Linked DNA regions of Homo sapiens: all the other regions are linked to region 2. Evidence: fine-mapped expression QTL. A gene starts in region 2. Each other region holds a variant in brackets. All regions are shown on one strand. Distances are between the middles of the regions.

Region 1 (5,000 bases), 50 kb after region 2:
CTTTTTCATTTGGTCCAAATGTCTAAAGGGGAAGGAGAGAGTCCCCCCCAGCTGCTGCCAAGCTGGGGTGCTGCACGGGGCGTCCAGCAGGATAACCCCTCCCTTTCATGGCATTTTCTCTCTCAGACAAGGCGACCAGCCAGCTCCTGTTGGAGACAGATTGGGAGTCCATTTTGCAGATCTGCGACCTGATCCGCCAAGGGGACACACAGTGAGTTAGCGGGGCCTGTGCCCTGATGCGGAGGAGCAGCCGTGCACTAAGCTGGGCTCGCTTGGTGCCCGTTGGGTCTCCACGACGTAGCTGACCGTGTTAGGCTCTTATGTGGAGAACTGCATGGGCTACATGCTAGGATTTTTTGACATCTTGGAGGATTAAGGGGTTTTCTCTGTACAGCTTGCAGATACCTGGTTATGTTTGTATTTGCTTCGGGGTTCTCAAAGACTAAGATGGCAGACAGACTTTTTTTTTTAAGACGGGGCCTTGCTTTGTCACCCAGGCTGAAGTGCAGTGGCGTGATCTCAGCTCACTGCAGCCCCTGCCTCCCAAGCTCAAACGATCGTCCCACCTCAACCTCCTGAGTAGCTGGGACTACAGGCATTCACCATCACGCCCGGCTGATTTTTTGTATTTTGGTAGAGATGGGTTTTTGCCGTAATGCACAGGCTGGTCTCAGACTCCTGGGCTCAAGCAATCCTCCTGCCTTGGCCTCCCAAAGCACTGGGATTACAGGCGTGAGCCACTGCACCTGGCAGCAGATGAGCTTTTCTCATCTTAGTTGCTGAGACTATTTTTTTCCCGTTTTTCTCTGCTTTTATCAATGTTTCCTTTTCAGAGCAAAATATGCTGTGAATTCCATCAAGAAGAAAGTCAACGACAAGAACCCACACGTCGCCTTGTATGCCCTGGAGGTAAGCAGACCCCCGTGCCTCAGTGGCCCCCAGGGTCCCTACCCCCTACTAGTCACGACAGCATGAGAAGAGTTTGTCCTGTGGCCTTGCCCACCTCCCTGGGCATACATCAAGCAGGAGAGTTTCCACTCAGCCTTGAGTGCCTGTGTGAACAGTGCCACCTAGGAGAGGGTCACGCTGAGGGAGAGACAGGAGATAGGGGAGGGAGTGGGCACCACTTCTTCAGCCGGTCCTGCGTGAGTAAACACCAGAAGGCGGATGTCATTGCTGTGCTTGGCAGTGAGACTTGGCGTCACGGAGCGGTGCTGTGCAGGCTGCTGAGTCTCAGATGTGGGTTCCCCACTGGCCTGACGGGCCTGTTGAAGGGCTGCTGTCCCACCGGGTTCCCCACCGGCCACTGACGGGCCTGTCGAAGGGCTCTGCTGTCCCACCGGGTTCCCCTCCGGCCACTGACGGGCCTGTCGAAGGGCTCTGCTGTCCCACCGGGTTCCCCACCGGCCACTGACGGGCCTGTCGAAGGGCTCTGCTGTCCCACAGGGAGGTGGGTCTGTCCGGGAGGAGGAGGGGCCCTGCCCTGACCACTGGCCCAACCCTTCCCTTCCTGGGCATCTGCAGGTCATGGAATCTGTGGTAAAGAACTGTGGCCAGACAGTTCATGATGAGGTGGCCAACAAGCAGACCATGGAGGAGCTGAAGGACCTGCTGAAGGTGGGTGAGACGGGGGCATGCGGGTGGCCACCCAGGCTGGCACCTTTGCTTCTCCGGGTGTTTACTGGGCACTGATGACAGAACAGCACCAGGTGTGGCGGAAAATGTGCAGGTGCAGATCGGTGGTCCCTGCACTGCGCAAGCTCGCACTCATGAGTCGGAGAGACAGGGCCGTGAGCCCCAATCCAGGGAGGTCAGGGTTTAGCAGGAGCCGGCCTGGGGTGCTGTGTCTGGAGGACCAAGGTGACAGCGACCCTGGGGCCTGGGGGAAGCTTCCGGGAGGCAGGGCTTGGGCACCTGCTGTCTTAGGGAAGGTGAGTAGATGCCACTGGGTGGGCAGGGCAGGTGGTGGCTATCGTGTGTGAGAGTGGCTGTGGTCCGGAGGGCAGGCTGGCCACATCCCACAGGCAGGGGCCTGGGAGGGCTCTGAGCGGGGGCTTGTAAGATCGGATGTGTCTGGCGGGGATAAGAGCTGTTTTGGAGAGCGAGGGCTTCATGCTTTCCTGGGCAGAGGAGGAAAAGCCCTCCAGATCCCCAGGAGATTGTGCCGGGGACATCTGCAGGGATTGTGCTGGGGACACCTGCAGGGACTGTGATGTGGACTGTGATGCAGTGGGGATGCTGTTGCAGGTGTCAAGGAGAAAGAGTGTCCCATGTAGTCAGGCTGCTCCCCTTCTGTCCC[A/G]ACCTGTGGGCCAGACCTGGGTCTCATAGGAGACTCCCTGGACTCACACAGCTGAGAACCTGCCCGGGGATCCCGGTGGACAGCCAGGCCTCTCAAAGGCCCTCACTGGCCACTTTGGCTGGCTTCCTGTCCCGTCCTGTCCTGGCTGAGAGGCGGAAGGTGCCGGAGTCTGGCCCTGCCCGACCCTGGTGCTCCTGAGCTCCTTCAGTCAGGCTGCAGATCCTGAGCCGGTTCGCTCCTCTGGGGTGAGGCAGGGCTGTGAAGGGAAGGCGCCGCTGAGGATGCAGAGGGGTTCTGGAAAGGAGCTTAGGCTGAGGTGCAAGTGCCCCGGAGCCTGCTTGCAGCAGCCTCTGATCGCACGCCGTCCTGCACGTCACACCGGGACGGCGTCCCCGAGAGGGCCGTAGACGCGAGGCCAGGCTGCGCTCTAACCGGGGGAGAGGATGGCTGCAGGGGGTCTGGAGCCCGCTCTGAATTTGGAGGCATTTCTGGAGCGGCTGCCCCCCGCGTCTCCCCGGCTGTGACTGGAAGGAGGGGCGTGGCCAGAGCCCCGCAGTACCCCTGTGTTCTCAGCCCCAACACCACGCTGCCACCGTCAGGCCTGCCGGGTCCTGCCTGTTGGAGGCTGACGGGAACCGGGGATCCTGGGGTGGGCAGGTCCCGTGGGGAAAGGGAGAGACAGATGGTCAGGGGCACAGAGACGCGGCGTTGTTTGGCTCCAGCAAGTAGAGGCAGGCGTGAGGTTTGAACTCAGGGTCTGGGAACAGGTTGGTGCATGGCCCCCACGCCCCACTCGGGGGGCCCTCCCTGGCCTCTGTGTCAGCCCCATCTGCTCAGAGGCTGAGGTCTGCCAGCTGCTTCCTCACACCGAGGCCTCTGGCGCCTGGAGTGTCCTGCGACCCTCACCCCCTTCTCCCTGCCTGCAGAGACAAGTGGAGGTAAACGTCCGTAACAAGATCCTGTACCTGATCCAGGCCTGGGCGCATGCCTTCCGGAACGAGCCCAAGTACAAGGTGGTCCAGGACACCTACCAGATCATGAAGGTGGAGGGTGAGTCAGGACTGAGGTTGGGACCAGGTTGAGGCTTGGAACTGCTGGGCAGTCAGGCTCAACGGGCACAGTGGCGAGGGGCCTGGGAAGATGGGTTGTTCCCTGTGTTGGGAGGGAGGAGGGCGGTGGCCTGGAGCCAGGGAAGACCGTGCATGTGAGGGCGGGTTCAGACCGGCTCCTGCCTTTCTGGACCCACGGCCCACGGGCAGGGGCAGGCAGTGATGGCAGACAACACACAGGTGAAAAGGCAGCAGACAGCCTGTTTCAGAGTGGCAGGACTCCTGGGGGCCGGGTTGGGCTGTGCAGTCAGGGAAGGCCTCTGAAGGAGCTGTCCCAAGTGTCGAGACTGGAACAGAAGCCAGAGCCGGCGTGAGCAGGCAGGCAGCACCCGTGGGCAGACACTCAGGGTTGAGGCCCCAGGGCAGAAAGGTGGCCAGCGTGCCAGAGGAGAGTGCAGCCGGGCCTGTGCGCCGAGGGCCTCCAGGCTGTTGGGCTGGAGTTCAGGGTTGCTGTCAGCGCAGCAGGAGGCCTCTGGTGGGTTTTCGTCTAGGTCGTGGCTGCCAAGGTGTGTTTCTTAAGGGTCCCTCTCGGCCATTGTGGCCGTGGAGAACTAGGGGATTGTGTAGAGAGAGGTGGGGGCTTCAGGATGCATTTGGGAGTCTTGGCTGGTGCTCAGGGCCCACTCAGTGAGAGAGAGGTGGGCATGGCTGCTCACATCTGTGCGGGTTCTCTGTGGCCCTGAGTCTGCTGAAGACGAGGCTGAGAGCGTGGGGAATGGGGCAGGCTCCAGGGGTGGTGCGTCCCCGCTGCAGGAGTTGGACGCTTGCCCTGTGGCTGCAGGGTGGGCAGGACCAGTGTGGAGAACACGGGAAGAACGCAGGGGGCGCTGCACGAGCTGCCTTGGACCCTCAACTTTGGGGTGGTGGATGCTGGTGGTCTGTGCTCCTGTCTCCTTCCTGGGGTGGGAGCTCTCCTGGATTTTTTCTGGGGTCGTGTGTCAAGAATAGCTCAAGGTCTTGTCCTCAGGATCAGTGGGAGCCCTGGCCAGAGAGCAGAGGGTGAGGGAGCCACTCAGCAGGCGGGGCCACGCAGGGGCCTCATGCCCTGATGGAGTGGGAGCAGTGTCTCAGGAAGAGGGCAGCAGGGCCTGGCTCTTGTCTCCCGCCACAGTGAGGACAGAGGCCCCATGGGGACACCCAATCTTGGGGGCAGGAGGCTGTCTCGGTGCCCCCAGACACCTTCACTTGGGTGCACGGTCACTGCTGCGTTGCAGCTGCCGAGAGTGAGGAAGGGGCTCCCGGAAGTCTTGCAGGCCAGGTGGGAGCAGGCAGTGACTATGGCTTCATCTCTCCAGGGCACGTCTTTCCAGAATTCAAAGAGAGCGATGCCATGTTTGCTGCCGAGAGAGTGAGTGTGGGCGGCCGCCAGGGGTTCTGGAGTCGGGCTGCTCAGGAAGCGTGAAGGGGAGTGCTGGGAGCCCGGCTTGTTTGAGGGTTGGTGGCTGAGCTCTCGTCTGTCTGGGACCTGAGGATGCCTGTGTGTCCTGGGCGGAGGCGTAGCAGCTGTCTCTGCAGGGCGAGGTGGAGACGTGGCTTGAGGGCCTTTAGAGTGGCTAGGGGGCTCGGGAAAGGAAAACAAGCACCTTTGATGA
Region 2 (6,038 bases):
TAGAGACAGGGTTTCACCATGTTGGTCAGGCCAGTCTTGAACTCCTGACCTCGTGATCCGCCCACCTCGGCCTCCCAAAGTGCTGGGATTACAGGCGTGAGCCACTGCATGGCCACATTTTATTTTTCAAAGGAGTCAAAGGTTTCTTGGCCGGGCATGGTAGCTCAGGACTGTAATCCTAGCAATTTTGGGACCCCAAGGTAGGAGGATCCCTCGAGCTCAGAGACCAGCCTGTACAACATAGTAGAGACCTCATCTCTATAAAAAAATGTTTTTAATTAAAAAGATTTAAAGGCCAGGCGCGGTGGCTTATGCCTGTAATCCCAGCATTTTGGTATGCCAAGGCGGGCGGATCACGAGGTCAGAAGTTCGAGATCAACCTGGCCAACACGGTGAAACCCCATCACCACTAAAAATAAAAAAGACATCAGCCATGCGTGTTGGCGAGCACCTGCAACCCCAGCTACTCGGCTGAGGCAGGAGAATTTCTTGAACCCGAGAGGCGGAGGTTGCAGTAAGCAGAGATCGCACCACTGAACTCCAGCCTGGGCGACAGAGTGAGACTCCATCTCAAAAAAATAAAATAAGGTTAAAAAAAAAAAAAAAAAAGGAGTCGACGTTTCCTAAGTTTCTCCTGGGCCATATATTCATTCCACTCATCTCCAGGTTGGGAAACATGGAGGCACCAAGAGGGCCCCTGACTGGAGAGATGATGGAACCACCAGAGAACAGCCTTGCAAATAAGTGCTAGGTTCTCCTGGAGACCCATTTGTTTGTGTGTGTGAGACAGTCTCATTCTGTCGCCCAGGGTGGAGTCCAGTGACGCCACCTAGGCTCACTATGTTGTCCAGGCTGGTCTTGAACTCCTGACCTCAGGTGATCCACCCACCTGGGCTTCCCAAAGTGCTGGGATTACAGGTGTGAGTCACCGCGCCGGGCCTGGAGACCTATTCTAGACAACACCTGGCAAAACTGCAGAGACTGTCACAATGCTACAGTATGAACATTACTCTTCACCCAATACTGCTAAGCTTCCCCCAGAAATCCCAAATCTTCCTTAATATTAACCAAAATGCTCCTGTCCAATGGTCAGTTAGTTTTTTTCCCATCACATTTACTTTTGGGAAGAAACTTCTCACAACTTAACGAGGGACTGGTTTTCTGATTTGTCACTGATATTTTTTACGTTAAGGAGGAGTGTGTGACAATTTTTTTTTTTTTTTTGAGACGCAGTCTCGCTCTATAGCCCAGGCTGGAGTGCCATGGAGGGATCTCAGCTCACTGTAACCTCCACCTCCCGCGTTCAAGCAATTCTCCTGCCTCAGCCTCCCAAGTATCTGGGATTACAGTGCGCCATGACGCCCGGCTAATTTTTTGTATTTTTAGTAGAGACAAGATTTTGCCATGTTGGCCAGGATGGTCTCGAACTCCTGACCCCAGGTGATCCACCCGCCTCGGCCTCCCAAAGTGCTGACATCACAGGCGTGAGCCACTGCGCCGGGCCGACAATTTCAATTTCAGGTAAAAAGTGAAATCAACATCATTTACAACATTCCTTTTAAAGAGGAATTGTCAAGTTGTCCTTCCAAGTAAGGAGCAAAGCCGGCAAGTTACTGTGTTTTCATTTTCCCAGGTCTTCTGGTGGGGAGGGAGCTCTGTAACGTCCCCGTCTGCAGAGCTGCTCTCCTTAGTGACTCATGACAAGGCACTTGCTGGGAAGCGGGAGAGCAGGAGGAGAGAATCAGAGGGAGATTAGGATAAGAGGTGTCCCTGGCTCTGAGAGGGGCAGGACTGGCTGGGAGTCCCTGGAATTAGACCAGGAAGTCTCCTGGAGCCGGGAAACGGGTGGGGAAGGAGGGCGGTTTCTCTTCGCCACAGTCCATTCTCCCTGCTTAGAAAGGCTCGGCCTTTCCCTGCCCAGGGCGGGGAACCGGGGTCGTAAGTCCCCTGGGGAGGGACACGGACGGGAAGCAGCCGAGGGGGGTGAAAGTCCCCGAGAGGGGCCCAGCCACTACAGAGAAAGCCCTGGCGAGAGAAGAGAAAGGGGCCGAGTCGCGGCGCCGGCAGGCCCGCCTCCCCCACAGGCCGAGGCCGGCAAATCTGCTGCCTCATCCCGGCGTCCCCGCTCCCGCCCGGCCGCCGCACTCACGATGCTCTCGGCCATGGCGGCTGCTCCTGCCTCCGGGCTCGAGCCCCGGGCCGCCGCCGCCTGCCGCCCCAAGGGCCTCGCAGACCCGGCCGCGGCCTCAGCCCCGGCCCCGGCCTCCCTACGCCGCCGCCACCGCCGCTCCAGCTTCGCCCGCCCGGCTCCGCCAGCCGCCGACGTCCCGGTGCCTCGCTCAATACGCTCCCCTCGGGCGCGAGGCCGGGAAACCAGGTTCCGGCCCCACCAACGGCTCGACGCATGCGCAGGGCGGCGCCGCTGACCCGCCCCCGCCATCCCTGCAACTGGAGGAGGGGATTTTGGAAAGTTGCGTCTGAGATTACTTCTGCTCGTCCTCGGAAACCCAAGCGGCACAGGAAAGTCCAAAAAGGAAGCAAAGACGAGCATCCGAAGTCTCACCCAAAAATAACTACTGCTGCGTATTATAGCGTATTATAATTGGGGAAACAGCATTCCAAACTTCTCTCCATGCACAGGTAAGTAGAGAAACAATTTCAGGAAGGCAGGATCACACCTTCATGTTTTTTTTTTTAAGTATTTTTTAAATTTAACATAAGAAAAACAAACGAGTTTAAACTGCATTTCAGGCCGGGCGCGGTGGCTCATACCTGTAATCCCAGCATTTTGGGAAGCCAAGGTGGACGGATCACCTGAGGTCAAAAGTTCGAGACCAGCCTGGCCAAAATGGTGAAACCCCGTCTCTACTCAAAATACAAAATTAGGCCATACGCGGTGGCTCACGCCTGTAATCCCAGCACTTTGGGAGGCCGAGGCAGGTGGATCACCTGAGGTCAGGAGTTCAAGACCAGCCTGACCAACGTGGTGAAACCCCGTCTCTACTAAAAATACAAAAATTAACTGGGCGTGGTGGCGGGCACCTGTAATCCCAGCTACTCGGGAGTCTGAGGCCGGAGAATCTCTTGAAGCGAAGAGGCGGAGGTTAGAATGAACTGAGTTGGTGCCACTGCACTCCAGTCTGGGCGACAGAGTGAGACTTCATCTCAAAAAAAAAAAAAAAAGACGTCACTTCACAGATTCTAAGGATTTTTGGAGTTGGATACCAGGAAACCGGAAGACTAAATGTATACATATTTCACAACATCACAATTACTGTGACAGTTTTTTTAAACTATGTTAAATTACATTAATTGATTAAATTATGTTAGTAATTGTATTAGTTTGCTCAGGGTGCCACTGTAACTACCCAACATATTGTCCCTGCCCACTGCCTAGACTTTATCAAGACAGGGGAATTGCAATAAAGAGTTTAATTCACACAGAGCCAGCTTGTACAGGTTACTGAGGTTTTATTACTACTCAAAAAAAATTAGTGTCCTTGAGAATTCAGGGATCAGAGTTTTTTGTTTTTTGTTTTTTTTTGTTTTTGAGTCCGAATCTCACTCTGTCACCCACACTGGAGTGCAGTGGCGCGATCTCGGCTCACTGCAACCTTCACCTCCTGGGTTCCAGTGATTCTCCTGCCTCAGCCTCCCGGGTAGCTGGGACTACAGGCGCACACTACCATGCCTGGCTAATTTTGTATTTTTCGTAGAGACGGAGTTTCTCCATGTTGGTCAGGCTGGTCTTGAACTCCTGACCTCAGGTGATCCGCCCACCTGGGCCTCCCCAAAGTGCTGGGACTATAGACGTGAGCCACCGTGCCCGGCTGGGGATCCGCGGTTTTAAGGATAATTTGGTGGGTATGGGGTCAGAAAGTAGGGAGTGTTGATTGGTTGGGTCAGAGGTGAAATGATAGGGAGTCAAAACTGTCCTCTTGTGCTGAGTCGGTTCCTGGGTGGGGGCCACAAGATATGAGCCAGTTTATCAATCTGGGTGGTGCCAGCTGATCCATGGAGTGCAGAGTCTGCAAAATATCTCAAGCGCTGATCTGTTTTTTAATAGTGATGTTATCCTGAGAAGCAATTTGGGAGGTTTAGAATCTTGTAGCCTCCAGCTACATGACTCCTAAACCATAATTTCTAATCTTATGGCTAATTTGTTAGTCCTGAAAAGGCAGTCTTGTCCCCAGGTAGGAAGGGAGTTTGTTTTGCAAAGGGCTGTTACCATCTTTGTTTCAAAGCTAAACTATAAACTAAGCGCCTCCCGAAGTTATTTCAGCCTACACCCAGGAATGAACAAGGACAGCTTGGAGGTTAGAAGCAAGATGGGTTCAGTTAAGTCCGATCTCTTTAACTGTAATAATTATCTCAGTTATAAGAAAATATAACATAACAAAATCTCTCACAGACTGGGTGGTGGTTTGGAATTACTTTTCTTTTTTTTTTTTTTTTTTTTTGAGTCGGATCTCCCTCTGTCGCCCAGGTTGGAGTGCAATGGCGCGATCCCAGCTCACTGCAACCTCCGCCTCGTGGGTTCAAGCGATTCTCCTGCCTCAGCCTCCTGAGTAGCTGAGATTACAAGCGTGCGCTACCACGCCCGGCTAATTTTTATATCTTTAGTAGAGACAGGGTTTCACCATGTTGGTAAGGCTGGTCTCGATCTCCTGACCTCGTGATCCACCCGCCTCAGCCTCCCAAAGTGCTGGGATTATAGGCATGAGCCACCATGCCCGGCCTGGAATTACTTCCTAACAGTCCTGGAAGCTAGAATCCCAGATCAAGGTGTCAGTAGACGTGGTTTCTCCTTTGTTTTCTTCTTTTTTTTTTCTTTTAAGGCTGGGGTCTTGGCCGGGCGCGGTGGCTCACGCCTGTCATCCCAGCGCGGTGGCTCACGCCTGTCATCCCAGCACGGTGGCTCATGCCTGTCATCCCAGCGCGGTGGCTCACGCCTGTCATCCCAGCACTTTGAGAGGCCGAGGCAGGTGGATCACGAAGTCAGGAGATCGAGACCATCCTGGCTAATATGGTGAAACCCTGTCTCTATTAAAAATAAAAAAAAAATTAGCCGGGCGTGGTGGCGGGTGCCTGTAGTCCCAGCTACTCGGGAGGCTGAGGCAGGAGAATGGCGTGAACCCGGGAGGCAGAGCTTGCAGTGAGCCGAGATCACGCCACTGCGCTCCAGCCTGGGCGACAGAGCAAGACTCCGTCTCAAAAAAAAAAAAAAAAGAAAAGACTGGGGTCTCACTCCCATCGCCGAGGCTGGAGTGCAGTGGCACAATCGTGGCTCACTGTAGCCTCGACTTCCCAGGCTCAGGTGATACTCCCACCTCAGCCTCCTCAGTAGCTGGGACCACAAGTGCTCACAATCACACCTGGCTAACTTTTTGTATTTTTAGTAGAGATGGGATCTTGCTATGTTGCCCAGGCTGGTCTCTAACTACTACTAGGTTCAATCAATCCACCCACCTCAGCCTCCCAAAGTGCTTAGATTACAGGCATAAGCCGCTGTACCCAGCCAGGTTTCTTCTTATACCTCTCTCCTTAGCTCGAAGATGGCACCTTCTCCCCGAGACCTCACATGTTTTTTCTTCTGTGCACACATTCCTCGTGTCTCTCCATGTGTCCCACCGTGTGTCCCAATTTTCTTGTAAGGATGTTGGATTAGGGCCCACGCTAATGGCACTTATTTATTTATTTAGGGATGGAGTCTTGCTCTGTCACCAGGCTGGAGTGCAGCGGCACCATCTCGGCTCACTGCAACCTCTGCCTCCTGGGTCCCAGCAATTCCCCTGCCTCAGCCTCCCATGTAGCTGGGATTACAGGCATGCGCCACGATGCCCAGCTAATTTTTTGTACTTTTAGTAGAGACAGGGTCACACCATGTTGGCCAGGCTGGTCTCAATCTCCTGACCTCATGATCCACCTGCCTCGGCCTCCCTAAGTGCTGGAATTACAGGTGTGAGCTACCGCGCCCAGCCCCTAATGGCCTTTAAAGGCCCTGTCTCCAAGTCCCATTCTGAGGTCCGGGGGGCTAG
Region 3 (6,038 bases), 79 kb after region 2:
AGGCGCTCTCTGGCTGCAGAACACCGCCTGGGGGAGGCGGGACTGCCCTCTGGCCTGGGAGGGCGGGAGGAGCCAGCTGCTGGCAGCATATGGCGCTGTGGTCAGGGTGTGCTCCTGAGGACTGCTCACCAGGCCTCTCTGCCTGGCCGTCGGAAAGATCTTTTAAAGCTTCTTGAGCACTTTGTCCCATGTCCCTACAGTCCCTACCGTCGCATCTGGCCGGGACGGGGGCTGCTACCTGTGTGGCCCAGTCCCTCTGTTCTGCTGGGCTCGCACAATGGGAGGCCCCTCTCTGTCCCCACCCATCTTTGCCGACCCCTGGGCGTGCGTTACGGGGCCGCGCACGTGCAGGTCACACTGAGCGGCGGAAGGACTTCTTTGGGGTCAGTGCTGGGGGTGGGACCCAGGAGCTGGGATCCTGGGCCAGGTGCTGGCCTTCCTGTCTGGCCCTGGCCAATCCCCCTACTGCCGGGAGCTCTCAGCTGGCCAGGCGAGGAGGCAGAGGTCCTGTGAGTGGTGGAGGCCAACAGAATGGGAGGTTGTCGGGCTGACAGCCCCCGAGTGCCTGCCCACAGCTCCTAGGTGCTTTGCAGAGGAGGCCGCTATGCCCTGCCGCCAGCCACACCGTCCCCTTGTCTGCTGCTGAGCTCCTGCTGCCTTTCAAGGCCTTCTATGGCTACCTCCTCAGTCTCCCATGGTCCTGCAGGCTCCCTCGCCGTTTCTGAGCGGCCATAAACGTTTGTCCCTCTTGAGACGTGGTGTGGTGGATAAAAAGTAGGGCTCTGGGGTCTCCTCGCTGGGCCCAAATCCTGATGGCACCAGCGGGTGCGTTACCTCTCCATGCCTCAGTTTCCTCATCTGCAGAAGGAGAATGGCGAGCCCCTGCGGCCAGTGCAGCCAATACTCAGGTGGTACGCGGGGCGCTCGCGGGGCTCGCGGACACTCTCAGCTCCATGTCCACTGGTGTGGTTGCTGTTGGAAAGCAGTGGTGTGAGCTGGTTCCAGGCACGGGTGTGGAGTCCCCGGGCAGGGCCGTGGGAGGCCTTATCACTGCCTCCTGCCTCAGTTTCCCCCTCTCTGGATGAACCTGGCACCGATCCCTCGGGGTCGCTGTGGGGTCTGAGAGCACTCACTCCCGCAGGTGCATCTGCAGACGCAGCAGGAGGTGAAGCTGCGCATGACGGGCATGGCGCTGCGGGTGGTGCGTACCGACGGCATCCTGGCACTCTACAGCGGCCTGAGCGCCTCGCTGTGCAGACAGGTGCGTGGTGTGTGCCAGCCTTGGGCTCCCAGACTGGGGCTGAGTCCTGCAGTGGCATCCAAGCTACTTCCGTCCCCTTTTCAAGACTTTGTGCAAGGAAGGACCCACCAGGCCGAGAGCTGGTGACCCCAGGGTGCGCCTCCCATGGGCACCCACCCAGTTTGCAGGGCTGGGCCTGAGACCGCCACTTACTGGTGGGGAAGCTGAGGCCCAGGGAGTGAGAAAGCAGGGTGCAGCTCTAGATTTGTGAACTGGCTCAGCCGCATGCTGGCACAGTGGCCTTGGGAAGGCCCCTCAGGGTCCCTGTGGCCCCTCGGGCTGAGGGGGATCCCTGGCTGGGCCGGGTGGCGAGGCTGAGGGGTGTGGGGCGTGCCCGTCCCTCCAAGCCAGGCCCTTCTCCCCCAGATGACCTACTCCCTGACTCGGTTCGCCATCTACGAGACTGTGCGGGACCGTGTGGCCAAGGGCAGCCAGGGGCCTCTCCCCTTCCACGAGAAGGTGTTGCTGGGCTCCGTCAGCGGTGAGCTGCCGGGCGGGAGGGGGAGGGGCGCGGGGTGGTCAGGTCGGCCGAGGACGCCGTGTGTCAGCACGGCTCATCTCTGGGGTTTGTGTCACCGCAGGTTTAGCTGGAGGCTTCGTGGGGACGCCCGCAGACTTGGTCAACGTCAGGTTGGTGTTCCCCCACCCCACCTGCAAGGCCAGGGGCTTTCTTGTCCCCAGACATGCCAGGGCCTGCCAGGGCTGCTTGCAGGGTGGGGTCAGCCTGGAATAAGCCACTGAGACCCTGGTGTCCTGGGCATAGGAGGGTGGGTGTCCCTGAGCCCCGGCGTGCCCTGTCCTGTGGGCCCCGCTGACCAGCGTGAGCTCCCCTGTGCTGCCAGGGCTGCCCATGCCCCTCGGCCCGCCCGCCCCTCCCGCCACCTGCTTCTGTTTCAGGATGCAGAACGACGTGAAGCTGCCCCAGGGTCAGCGGCGCAAGTGAGTCATGGGCGGCCTTCTCGGGGTGGTTGAGGTGCAGGAGGCTCGGGCGGGAGCGGACCCCTGGCTGCTCTGCCGTGACCCAGCTGAGGCTCCAGCAGGCCGAGGTGCCTGCACGGTCCATGGAGGGTCCTGACGGCTGTTCTGGACTCGGGGGTGTCACTCTGCGCCCCCAGGACCTTTGGGTTCTTCCTGTGGGGAGAGCCTTGTTGGATTGGGGGCTGGGCCTGTTTGCACCCCAGGGTGGTGAGTGCGGAGGCGAACGCCCCAGGCATGGAGAGAGCGCATGCAACAGAAACGCCCGAAGGAGGCGCTGCCTCCCTGCCCAGCTCAGGGCAGCTGTGCCCTCCTGCCACGGCCTGGGGTCTTTCCAGGGCCCGGGGTCCGCTCCAACTGCAGTGTGAGCCACTTCCCCCGCCCCTTCCAAGGACCCCTGGGGAGTTCTGGCTTCTAGCTGTGCACACAGACTGTGTTCCCCCAGGACCCCGGGGGCTGGCGGGCAGGAGGCCTGCATGCTAGGAGCGGTGCCCAGCCAGGGACTCTGTTGGAAACGATGGAACCTCCTCCCTGAGGGCCGGGCGGGGCGGGCGAGGTGGCTGTGGGACGTCAGGACCAGCTTCATGTTCCCAGGGAGAGATCTTCAGGCCCATGAGGCCTCTGCTTCCTCGAGAACCCCCGGCCTGCCTCGGGGCCTGGGAGGACCCTCTGTGGGAGCCGGTGGTCAGGGGGAGTCTCATGTGGTCATTCTGTGTCCCCGGCAGCTACGCCCATGCGCTGGATGGCCTGTACCGCGTAGCTCGTGAAGGTGAGGGGCAGGTGCTGTGCACAGGCAGGGTTCTGGGGGGCAGGCAGGGTGGGCAGCGCTGTAGAAGACTGGGCGCTGAGGGATTTGGGCCAGGTGCCTGGCCTCACCCCT[T/TGCCTCACCCCTG]GCCTCACCCCTTGCCTCACCCCTTCCTTGTGCAGAGGGTCTCAGGAGACTGTTCTCGGGTGCAACCATGGCATCCAGCCGAGGGGCCTTAGTCACTGTGGGCCAGGTAGGCCTCCTGCGTGGGGTGGGTGTGGGCAGTGCCTGTGACCACTGACCTCCATCTTCAGAGGGGCCATAGAACAAGGCACTGGGCGCCAAAACCCTCCTGGGGAGCCACCAGCTGTGACCTTGTGGGGCAGGGTGGGGGGCACGGGTGGGTCAGGGCTGCAGCCTGTGAAGGACCTCGGGCAGGTGCCTCCCCTGTCTGGGCCTCACGGACGGACAGACGGAGCAGGTGCTTGGCCATTGCCAGGTGGTGTCGCCTGGGGCCCTGTGTGCTTTCCCCAAGCTGGGGTCCCCCCTACAGCCCTGACCGCCCTTGTGCCCCTGCAGCTGTCCTGCTACGACCAGGCCAAGCAGCTGGTCCTTAGCACCGGGTACCTCTCTGACAACATCTTCACTCACTTTGTCGCCAGCTTTATTGCAGTAAGTGGCCGGCATGGCTAGGGTGGGCGTCCCTGGGCCGGCCTTGGGCGCTGAGGGCACCCAGGATGGGGCGAGGGCTGGGGGAGGCGGGGGCCTTGGGCATCTGGCAGTGCCCCCTGGGGCTCATAAGTGGGGTGCCAGGGCTTTGGGAGCTCATGGGTCAGCCTGGTGCCCCCGCCAGCATGTTCCTGGCCCGCCCTAGGAGTCAGGTGGAGGTTCTGGCACGTGGGTGGGATTCGGCGATGGTGCCTGGCGTACCTGACAGGCCGCTGGTGACGAGCCCCCTCCTCAGGGTGGATGTGCCACGTTCCTGTGCCAGCCCCTGGATGTGCTGAAGACTCGCCTGATGAACTCCAAGGGGGAGTATCAGGTGAGTGGGGCCCTGCCTGTGCAGTTGGGCTGCACAGCCCAGCGAGTCCCCTCACCTCTCCGGGGGGTGGACACTCGCACTGGGGACCCGGGGAAGGGTGTCCCTCCCTTCTAGTTGCCTGTCTCTGCACAGCACTTGCCTTGGGAGAGGGTTGTGCCTTTGAATGCCTTTGCCTTGTTTTTGTTTTTAGAGAAGACTTCTTGGCCCGGCGCAGTGGCTCATGCCTGTAACCCCAGCACTTTGGGAGCCTGAGGCAGGCAGACTGCTTGAGTCTAGGAGTTCAAGACCAGCCTGGGCAACATACTGAAACCCTGTCTCTACCAAAATTACAAAAATTAGGGGCCAGGTGCGGTGGCTCATGCCTATCATCCCAGCACTTTGGGAGGTCGAGGCAAGCAGATCACCTGAGGTCAGGAGTTCAAGACCAGCCTGGCCAACATGGTGAAACCCCCTCTCTACTAAAAATACAAAAAATTGGCTGGGTGTGGTGGCGTGCGCCTGTAATCCCAGCTACTCGGGAGGCTGAGGCAGGAGAATCGCTTGAACCTGGGAGGCGGAGGTTGCAGTGAGCCGAGATCACACCATTGCACCCCAGCCTGGGCCACAAGAGTGAAACTGTCTCAAAAAAACAAAACAAAACAAAATTGGTCAGGCTTGGTGGTGCATGCCTGTAGTTCCAGCTACACAGGAGGCTGAGGTGGGATAATCCCTTGAGCCCAGGATGTCCAGGCCACAGTGAGCCGAGATTGCACCACTGCATTCCAGCCTGGGTGACAGAGTGAGACTGTCTTAAAACATTTCTTTTCGGCCAGGCACGGTGGCTCACGCCTGTAATCCCAACACTTTGGGAGGCCAAGGCGGGCAGATCACAAGTCAGGAGTTGGAGACCAGCCTGACCAACATGGTGAAACCCCGTCTCTACTAAAAATGCAAAAAAATTAGCTGGGCCTGGTGGCGCACGCCTGTAATCCCAGCTACTCAGGAGGCTGAGGCAGGAGAATTGCTTGAATTCAGGAGGCGGAGGTTGCAGTGAGCCGAGATTGCACCACTGCACTCCAGCCTGGATGACAGAGCGAGACTCTGTCTTAAAAAAACAAAAAACAAAAAAAAACACATTTCTTTTCTTTCTTTTTTTTTTCCCCTCATTGCAACCTCCACCTCCTGGGATCAAGCGATTCTCCTGCCTCAGCCTCCCAAGTAGCTGGGATTACAGGCGCCCGCCACCATGCCCGGCTAATTTTTCATATTTTTAGTAGAGACAGGGTTTCACCATGTCGGCCAGGCTGGTCTTGAACTCCTGACCTCAGGTGATCCGCTTGCCTCGGCCTCCCAAAGTGCTGGGATTACAGGCACGTGCCACCACTCCTGGCTAATTTTTGTATTTTTAGTAGAGACAAGGTTTCGCCATGTTCGCCAGGCTGGTCTTGAACTCCTGGCCTGAAGTGATCTGCCGCCTCAGCCTCCCAAAGTGCTGGGATTACAGGTGTGAGTCACTGTGCCCGGCCAAAAACATTTCTTTCACAGATTAACAGAGGTGGTGCCGTTCATGGCAGTCTGTGCCTCATAGGTGCTCTGGGTCTCCTGTCTTGGGCCCCCGCCAACTCCATGGGGCTTCCACGTTTGCAGAGCCCATAGCTCTGTCCCTTTTCTTCTCCCTGACGCTGCCGTGCTGCATCCCTGATTCTCATGGTTCTGTTCACAGCCCCCTCTGCCCACTGGACCCCGGGCTGCACCCTCGGGCCCTGGTTGTACCGCATGAGCAGGCAGGGTGGCCGTTGACCTGGCTGGTGCCTGCAGACCTGTGGTCACCTGTTACCAGCCAGCAGCCGCCGCTCACACCCACACCCACACCCACACCCCACATTGAGAATGCCCAGGCCACCGTGCCTGGCTGGTGCCTGGGAGGGGATTTTCGTTGCCTTTTGGGTGAGAAGCAGCCTTTTTGATTGTTTCACTGCGTTTTCTGCAGGGCGTTTTCCACTGCGCCG
Region 4 (6,038 bases), 39 kb before region 2:
CCCGTTTTGCTTTTTTTTTTTGAGATGGAGTTTCACTCTGTCGCCCAGGGGAACATCCTTGTCCATATATACATATACATATATATATATATTTTTTTTTTCTTTTCTTTTCTTTTTTTGAGACAGAGGCTCACCCTGTCACCCAGGCTGGAGTGCACTGGCACAAACTCAGCTCACTGCAACCTCCGCCTGATGGGTTCAAGTGATTCTCCTGCCTCAGCTCCTTGAGTAGCTGGGATTACAGGCGCCCACCACCATGCCCAGCTAATTTTTATATTTATAAAGAGATGGGGTTTCGCTATGTTGGCCAGGCTGATCTCGAACTCCTGACCTCAAGCGATCCACTCACCTGGGCCTCCCAAAGTGCTGGGATTACAGGCGTGAGCCACCACGCCCGGCCAAAAAAGTGGACTTTTAATGAGAGCACTGGCCTAGAGGAGAGCTCTGTGGAGGTCCTGATTCTGTTATGAGTTTTGGGGTTTGTGTTTATATAGTTTTATGCTGTTAAGTTGTTCAGAATTTTTACCATAAAAAGAAAGGAGGAATTTATATCCCACAAGCCCAGTAAGAAAGTCCAGTATAACTAAGTTAAGGATAAAAAGCTACCAAAAAGAGGAACAAAATATATTAACGAGGTGGTAATATTTACAGTACATACTGTCCCTGTTATACCTGTAGCCACTGCAGTAACAAACTTGGATCCAAAATGTCCGTCTGGAGAGAGCCGGCACATGTTGGGATGCTTGTTCTGGAAGTCTCCTGCAGTGATGCACTCTTCTGAACTTAGGAAATAGGTGTCCTAAGACAAGAGAAGCAGCCTATCAAATTTTACAGCATCATGCCAAAATATACTTCTATTTCTTCTTTAAAAAATAAGAACTAAGCCAGGAGCAGTGACTCACACCTCTAATTCCAGCACTTTGAGAGGTGGAGGCGGGAGGTCCACTTGAGGACAAGAGTTCGAGACCAGCCTGGCCAACACACCAAAACCTGGTCTCTACTAAAAATAAAAAAATTATCTGGGTATGGTGGTGCACACCTGAACCCAGGAGGAGGAAGCTGTAGTGAGCCGAGATTGTGCCATTGCACTCCAACCTGTGCAACACAGCAAGACTCTGTCTCAAAAAAATAAAAATAAAAAATAAGAACCAAACTATAAAACTCAAAACCACTTTGAAACAAGTATCTACAATTCCTAACCATTACCAATTCCTCATCTAAAACCACTCACGACTAGAAAGGCCAGAAGCACTATGCAAACCACCCCGCCATGGGCTGAGCCCTGAAAATCACTGCTTTATAAAGGTAAGATGGGTTTAGCTCTATGAGACCAAGAGATCCGGCCTTCATTGATCAAGAAGAACTTCTTGAAAAATAATGGGGCCTGAGGGCTGGGCATGGTGGCTCACACCTGTAATCCCAGCACTCTGGGAGGCCAAGGCAGGCAGATCACAAGGTCGAGATCAAGACCATCCTGGCTAACACAGTGAAACCCCATCTCTATTAAAAATACAAAAAAATTAGCTGGGCATGGTGGCAGGCGCCTGTAGTCCCAGCTTCTCCTGAGGCTGAGGCAGGAGAATGGCGTGAACCCGGGAGGCATTGCTAGCGGTGAGCAGAGATTGCGCCACTGCACTCCAGCCTGGGCAAAAGAGCAAGACTCCGTCTCAAAAAATACAAATAAATAAATAATGGGGCCTGAAAGCTAGAACCAGCGGTGCAAAGAGACCCTGATAATGCAGGCCAACACCATCTGTAACCAAGCCATAGGGCCACACGCACAGTCCTGTCTCCACCTCACCTTATTTCGACTGTAGCGGACGGTACCCTTTCGGGTATCTTCTGAGACGAGGTCTGTAAATATCCAGCCAACCTTAAAAAAAGGAAAGTAGCTTTTAAACATCTCCTCAAGATAGACGATGAATGGCTGGGCGCAGTGACTCACGCCTATAATCACAGCACTTTGAGAGGCCGAGGCAGGAGAATCACGAGGTTAAGAGATCGAGACCATCCTGGCCAATACAGTGAAACCCCATCTCTACTAAAAATACAGAAATTAGGCCGGGTGCGGTGGCTCACGCCTGTAATCCCAGCACTTTGGGAGGCCGAGGCGGGTGGATCACCCGAGGTCGGGAGTTCGAGACCAGCCTGACCAACATGGAGAAACCCTGTCTCTACTAAAAATACAAAATTAGTTGGGGTGGTGGCGCATGCCTGTAATCCCAGCTACTCAGGAGGCTGAGGCAGGAGAATCACTTGAACCCGGGAGGCAGAGGTTGCAGTGTGCCAGGATCGCGCCATTGCACTCCAGCCTGGGCAACAAGAATGAAACTCCATCTCAAAAAAAAAAAAAAAAAATTAGCTGGGCGTGGCCGGGTGTGGTGGCTCACGCCTGTAATTCCAACACTTCGGGAGGCCAAGACGGTGGATCACGAGGTCAGGAGATCAAGACCATCCTGGCTAACATGGTGAAATCCCGTCTCTACTAAAAATAGAAAAAAATTAGCCGGGCGTGGTGGCGGGTGCCTGTAGTCCCAGCTACTCAGGAGGCTGAGGCAGGAGAATGGTGTGAACCCGGGAGGTGAAGCTTGCAGTGAGCCGAGATTGCGTCACTGCACTCCAGCCTGGCCCACAGAGCAAGACTCTGTCT[CA/C]AAAAAAAAAAAAAAAAAAAAGATAGATGATGAATGTTTTCTGGCTTCTGCCCAGAGAGCTTAAAAAGAATGTTCTCAGTCAGAAACTCCTTTTTGTGAGCCAGGTGAATCTACATCAACAGGTTCCTCAAGTAAGATGCCAGGCCACACCCAGGGATCTCCATCTCTGTTCAGTAGAAACTGGCCACCCTCCCTCTGGTGCTGCTGGGTTAGAGATGAGTTTCCTCAGCACCAGCTCTGCCCAGCACCATGCTGGGTGCAAGAGACACAGCAGTGAGTGAGACCAACAGAAGGTGAGTGAAAAAGGCACTTAAACTCCCAAGAGGAAGACAGACAACAAGCAAGCAAATAAACATTTCAGAGAGTAGGTCTTTCCTGACAAGCTAAGAAAAAGGATTCCTAGAGAAAGGCACATAATACAAAAGGGGTAATATAATGCAGACTTCACACAGCTGCTCCTGGGAGCTCCACCTCAAGGCCGGAAGGAAGCATCTGAGGGTATGAGGATCTGAAACCTGTGACCCAGCAACCCCTGCACGTTCAGTGTAGCAGTGCCTGTGTGCTGTGTGATCCTTAGGCCCGCCTCTGCCTGTGAATTCCTGCACCAGAAGCCCGTCACGAGGCCACAGGAGCAGCAGTTGAGTCCCGGCAATTGTCACTTCTGTCCTCGGGAAGGATCTGCGGCCCATGACCCTCTCCAGCACTACCTGACACACAACTCTTCCCATCCACCCCCAGCAGACATGACTAGCCCACTGGGAGACTTTCACTGTCTTTAAAGATGCCCCAATGAATGAAAAACCCAAGGTGGTGGCAACAGAGAAAATGAAACTTAAAGGGTTAATTATGCAGTAAATAAAGCAAAATCAAAATCAAACTGAGAAAAATTAGGGCTTAGAAACTCATATTTTAGGCCAGGCACGGTGGCTCACGCCCATAATCCCAGAACTTTGGGAGACCAAGGCGGGTGGATCACCTGAGGTCGAGAGTTCAAGACCAGCCTGGCCAACATGGTGAAACATCGTCTCTATTAAAAATACAAAAATTAACTGGGCGTTGTGGCGGGTGCCTGTAATCCCAGCTACTTGGGAGGCTGAGGCAGGAGAATCACTTGAACCCGGGAGGCAGAGGTTGCAGTGAGCCAAGATCGTGCCACTGCACTCCAGCCTGGGTGAAAGAGCAAGACTCCTCAAAAAAAAAAAATAAAATAAAATAAAAAGAGAAACTTGTGTCTTGCAGAAAATTATTTAAGTAATTTCAAGATTATGAACTGTAAGATTATAACAAATTAGGTCAAAAAATTGGACCAATCTCTTTTAAACAAGAGAACTTCCAGAATTTGAACCCAAATATGCCCCTAAATCAAGATGCTGACTCCTTGTTAGAAACAGGATGTTTCTTTCCTAAAGACAGTAAAACTGTGTGGACTGCTCACTGACACTACTAGGTTTTAAGTCACATTTGCAGTCTCACCCGCTTCATCTGTAGAGAAGATTAAATAATCTAGAGATTATTTTTCATGGTCTGAGTTGATTAGGAAATAAAGGATAAAACATACTTATTAACATTAAACTCGTAAGATATGTTCAAATTCATGGCTCTACATTAATTTATTAAAATTGTTCCTGGGAACTGTATCAATGTCAGATAAACCAGATCAATAGAATAAAAAAGGAAATCCTTTTCTCATCTTCTAACTGTTCCATGAAACTAGGAAGAATTGTAGGCTCAGAGAGCTAAATTATAAACAGGAAATTAAATGATGATTGATGACGGAGCAGCAGAAGCTCCAAGTGCATGGCACAGAACATGAACACTGTCAATGGAATGTCAGCCTTGACTGTCCTCGGCTTCCAAGCTACATGAAGGGAGAGCTCAGGCAGAAGGGACACACATGCACAGAGGAGCCAGCAGGGGTGCGGCTGGGGTCTGTTTCCCACTTGAAGCAGTCCTCATGAAGTGTGGCTGGAAGGCTGAAATATAACAGCCAGATCTGCACTGGGATTTTTTTTTTTTTATGCTCAAGAAAATGTTCTCATTTTAGTTTAAGTCAGAGGAACATAAAGGTTATTGGTGCCCAACAAACATATGTGAAGTTTCAAAACATATAGTGCCTGCACCTGACCTTGTGCAGCCGGAGAGAGCCAGTACCCGACACAGCCCGGCCACTCTCCCAACTCCCCCTGGCCTGGATGCCCAACAGAGCCTGGCCACGCCCCCTGCTTGGCTGCCGGATGCCTCAGTACCTTCCGCAGGCCAAGTTTGGCAGCAATTTCATCGACCACTTCAGCTTTTGGATCCTCAAGAAGCTCCAAGCTGTTCTGTGTACCAATCTGCAGGGAATCAAAGGGAGAAGATGGACTTAGAGCAGAGGGCTCAGGAAGCAGCACCCCAAGCCCTTCCACTTCCAGCTCTAGGTCACAAGGAGTGCTGGGGGCCTCCTTGTCAGAAAGGAGAACTATAGCCACAGATAAAACACATGCGACACGCCTCCCGGCTTCTCTCCTTCTCGGGTTGTGCTGCACCTTTTACCAGGGCTGCAAAACATGTGGCATGCAGGGCCCAGCTGATGTGTGCTGCACAGCTCTGCATCAGGAGCACTCAGGACTAAGGCAAGGCAAGGTCTACACACTCTGCCTGTTTTAAAAGTTCCTTCATCAGGGAATTAAGTTACTTTCAAACTTCCTTGGATAAGTAGCTTCACTCCAAACAGGTTTGGCTAAATTAGGCAAGACTCAAACTGTAAGGTAACATCCATTCCCACAAAACAGCCTTGGAAAATCTGTGTGCCACTCCTGCAGAGACAATGCTTGGCTTCACAGCTAAGATACTCAGTTACAGGGACACTATGAACTCCACAGAGAGCGATGAGCTCACCAACCCTAAGGAAGGGAAAAGGTGTTCAAAAATCAACCACCTCCTTTCATCTGGCACAGGGCAGTCGATGAGTTGTAGCTTCGACTGGCTCCCATGCAACTGAAACCAACCACAGCACATCACTTCCCAGAGTGGACCAAGCTTACCGAAATCATTAATGTTCACTTAAATGTAGCTTGCGGGTCATTCAAAGGTATCATTCTATGCAGAAACCCCAGCCATAAGAATAGGAAAGGTAAAGGTAATCTCAAATTGAGTTACAGTAACTGGGCATATCCTTGTAAATTAGTGAAAATCTGGCAAACCACAAAGAAGTTTACGTTTGCTGGGTATTACCCATATGGAGGTCATTAATACCTCCAGAACGTAGGTTAAATCACAAACTCAGAGAAAAAGCTAAGGAAAAGGAGTTGTTTAATGACATGTGGCAGCATAAGCTGCATAAGCAAATTTTTGTGTGTGTATTTTTAGTAGAAACGGGGTTTTGCCATGTCAGCCAGGCTAGTCTTG

Which allele goes with the higher level. Alleles are on the strand shown, and positions count from the first base shown. SD is a standard deviation of normalised expression in the study named. Not every link is listed here.
As copies of T replace TGCCTCACCCCTG in region 3, the expression in caudate of the gene that starts at base 2,430 in region 2 goes down (small effect, 0.24 SD a copy in GTEx).
For the expression in iPS cells of the gene that starts at base 2,430 in region 2, allele CA in region 4 goes with a higher level than allele C (large effect, 0.83 SD a copy in HipSci).

What was found. PIP is the estimated chance that this variant, and not a neighbour inherited with it, causes the effect.
Region 1: its variant is fine-mapped to the expression of TSPAN10 in cerebral cortex (GTEx, PIP 0.98).
Region 3: its variant is fine-mapped to the expression of TSPAN10 in caudate (GTEx, PIP 0.91).
Region 4: its variant is fine-mapped to the expression of TSPAN10 in iPS cells (HipSci, PIP 0.95).

Annotation. Positions count from the first base shown.
Region 1 is chr17:81,685,479-81,690,478 of GRCh38, forward strand. HGS (hepatocyte growth factor-regulated tyrosine kinase substrate) reads left to right here. Exons shown (of 22, transcript NM_004712.5): 2 at 127-211; 3 at 834-909; 4 at 1,525-1,617; 5 at 3,226-3,349; 6 at 4,704-4,756. Among named protein-coding and RNA genes, the nearest start is that of HGS, 4.0 kb to the left of the region's middle. The variant A/G (reference allele first, on the strand shown) is at 2,300.
Region 2 is chr17:81,634,767-81,640,804 of GRCh38, forward strand. It overlaps TSPAN10 (tetraspanin 10), which reads left to right and starts at 2,430. Exons shown (of 4, transcript NM_001290212.2): 1 at 2,430-2,640. NPLOC4 (NPL4 homolog, ubiquitin recognition factor) reads right to left here and starts at 2,346. Exons shown (of 17, transcript NM_017921.4): 1 at 2,150-2,346. The coding sequence starts at 2,164. RefSeq lists a silencer at 2,076-2,285.
Region 3 is chr17:81,713,812-81,719,849 of GRCh38, forward strand. SLC25A10 (solute carrier family 25 member 10) reads left to right here. Exons shown (of 11, transcript NM_012140.5): 2 at 1,142-1,261; 3 at 1,667-1,781; 4 at 1,882-1,930; 5 at 2,198-2,239; 6 at 3,001-3,044; 7 at 3,191-3,261; 8 at 3,588-3,680; 9 at 3,973-4,050; 10 at 6,020-6,038. Among named protein-coding and RNA genes, the nearest start is that of SLC25A10, 4.5 kb to the left of the region's middle. The variant T/TGCCTCACCCCTG (reference allele first, on the strand shown) is at 3,156.
Region 4 is chr17:81,595,444-81,601,481 of GRCh38, forward strand. NPLOC4 (NPL4 homolog, ubiquitin recognition factor) reads right to left here. Exons shown (of 17, transcript NM_017921.4): 9 at 4,898-4,984; 10 at 1,802-1,873; 11 at 673-799. Among named protein-coding and RNA genes, the nearest start is that of NPLOC4, 39 kb to the right of the region's middle. RefSeq lists enhancers at 2,976-3,095, 5,983-6,038. The variant CA/C (reference allele first, on the strand shown) is at 2,651.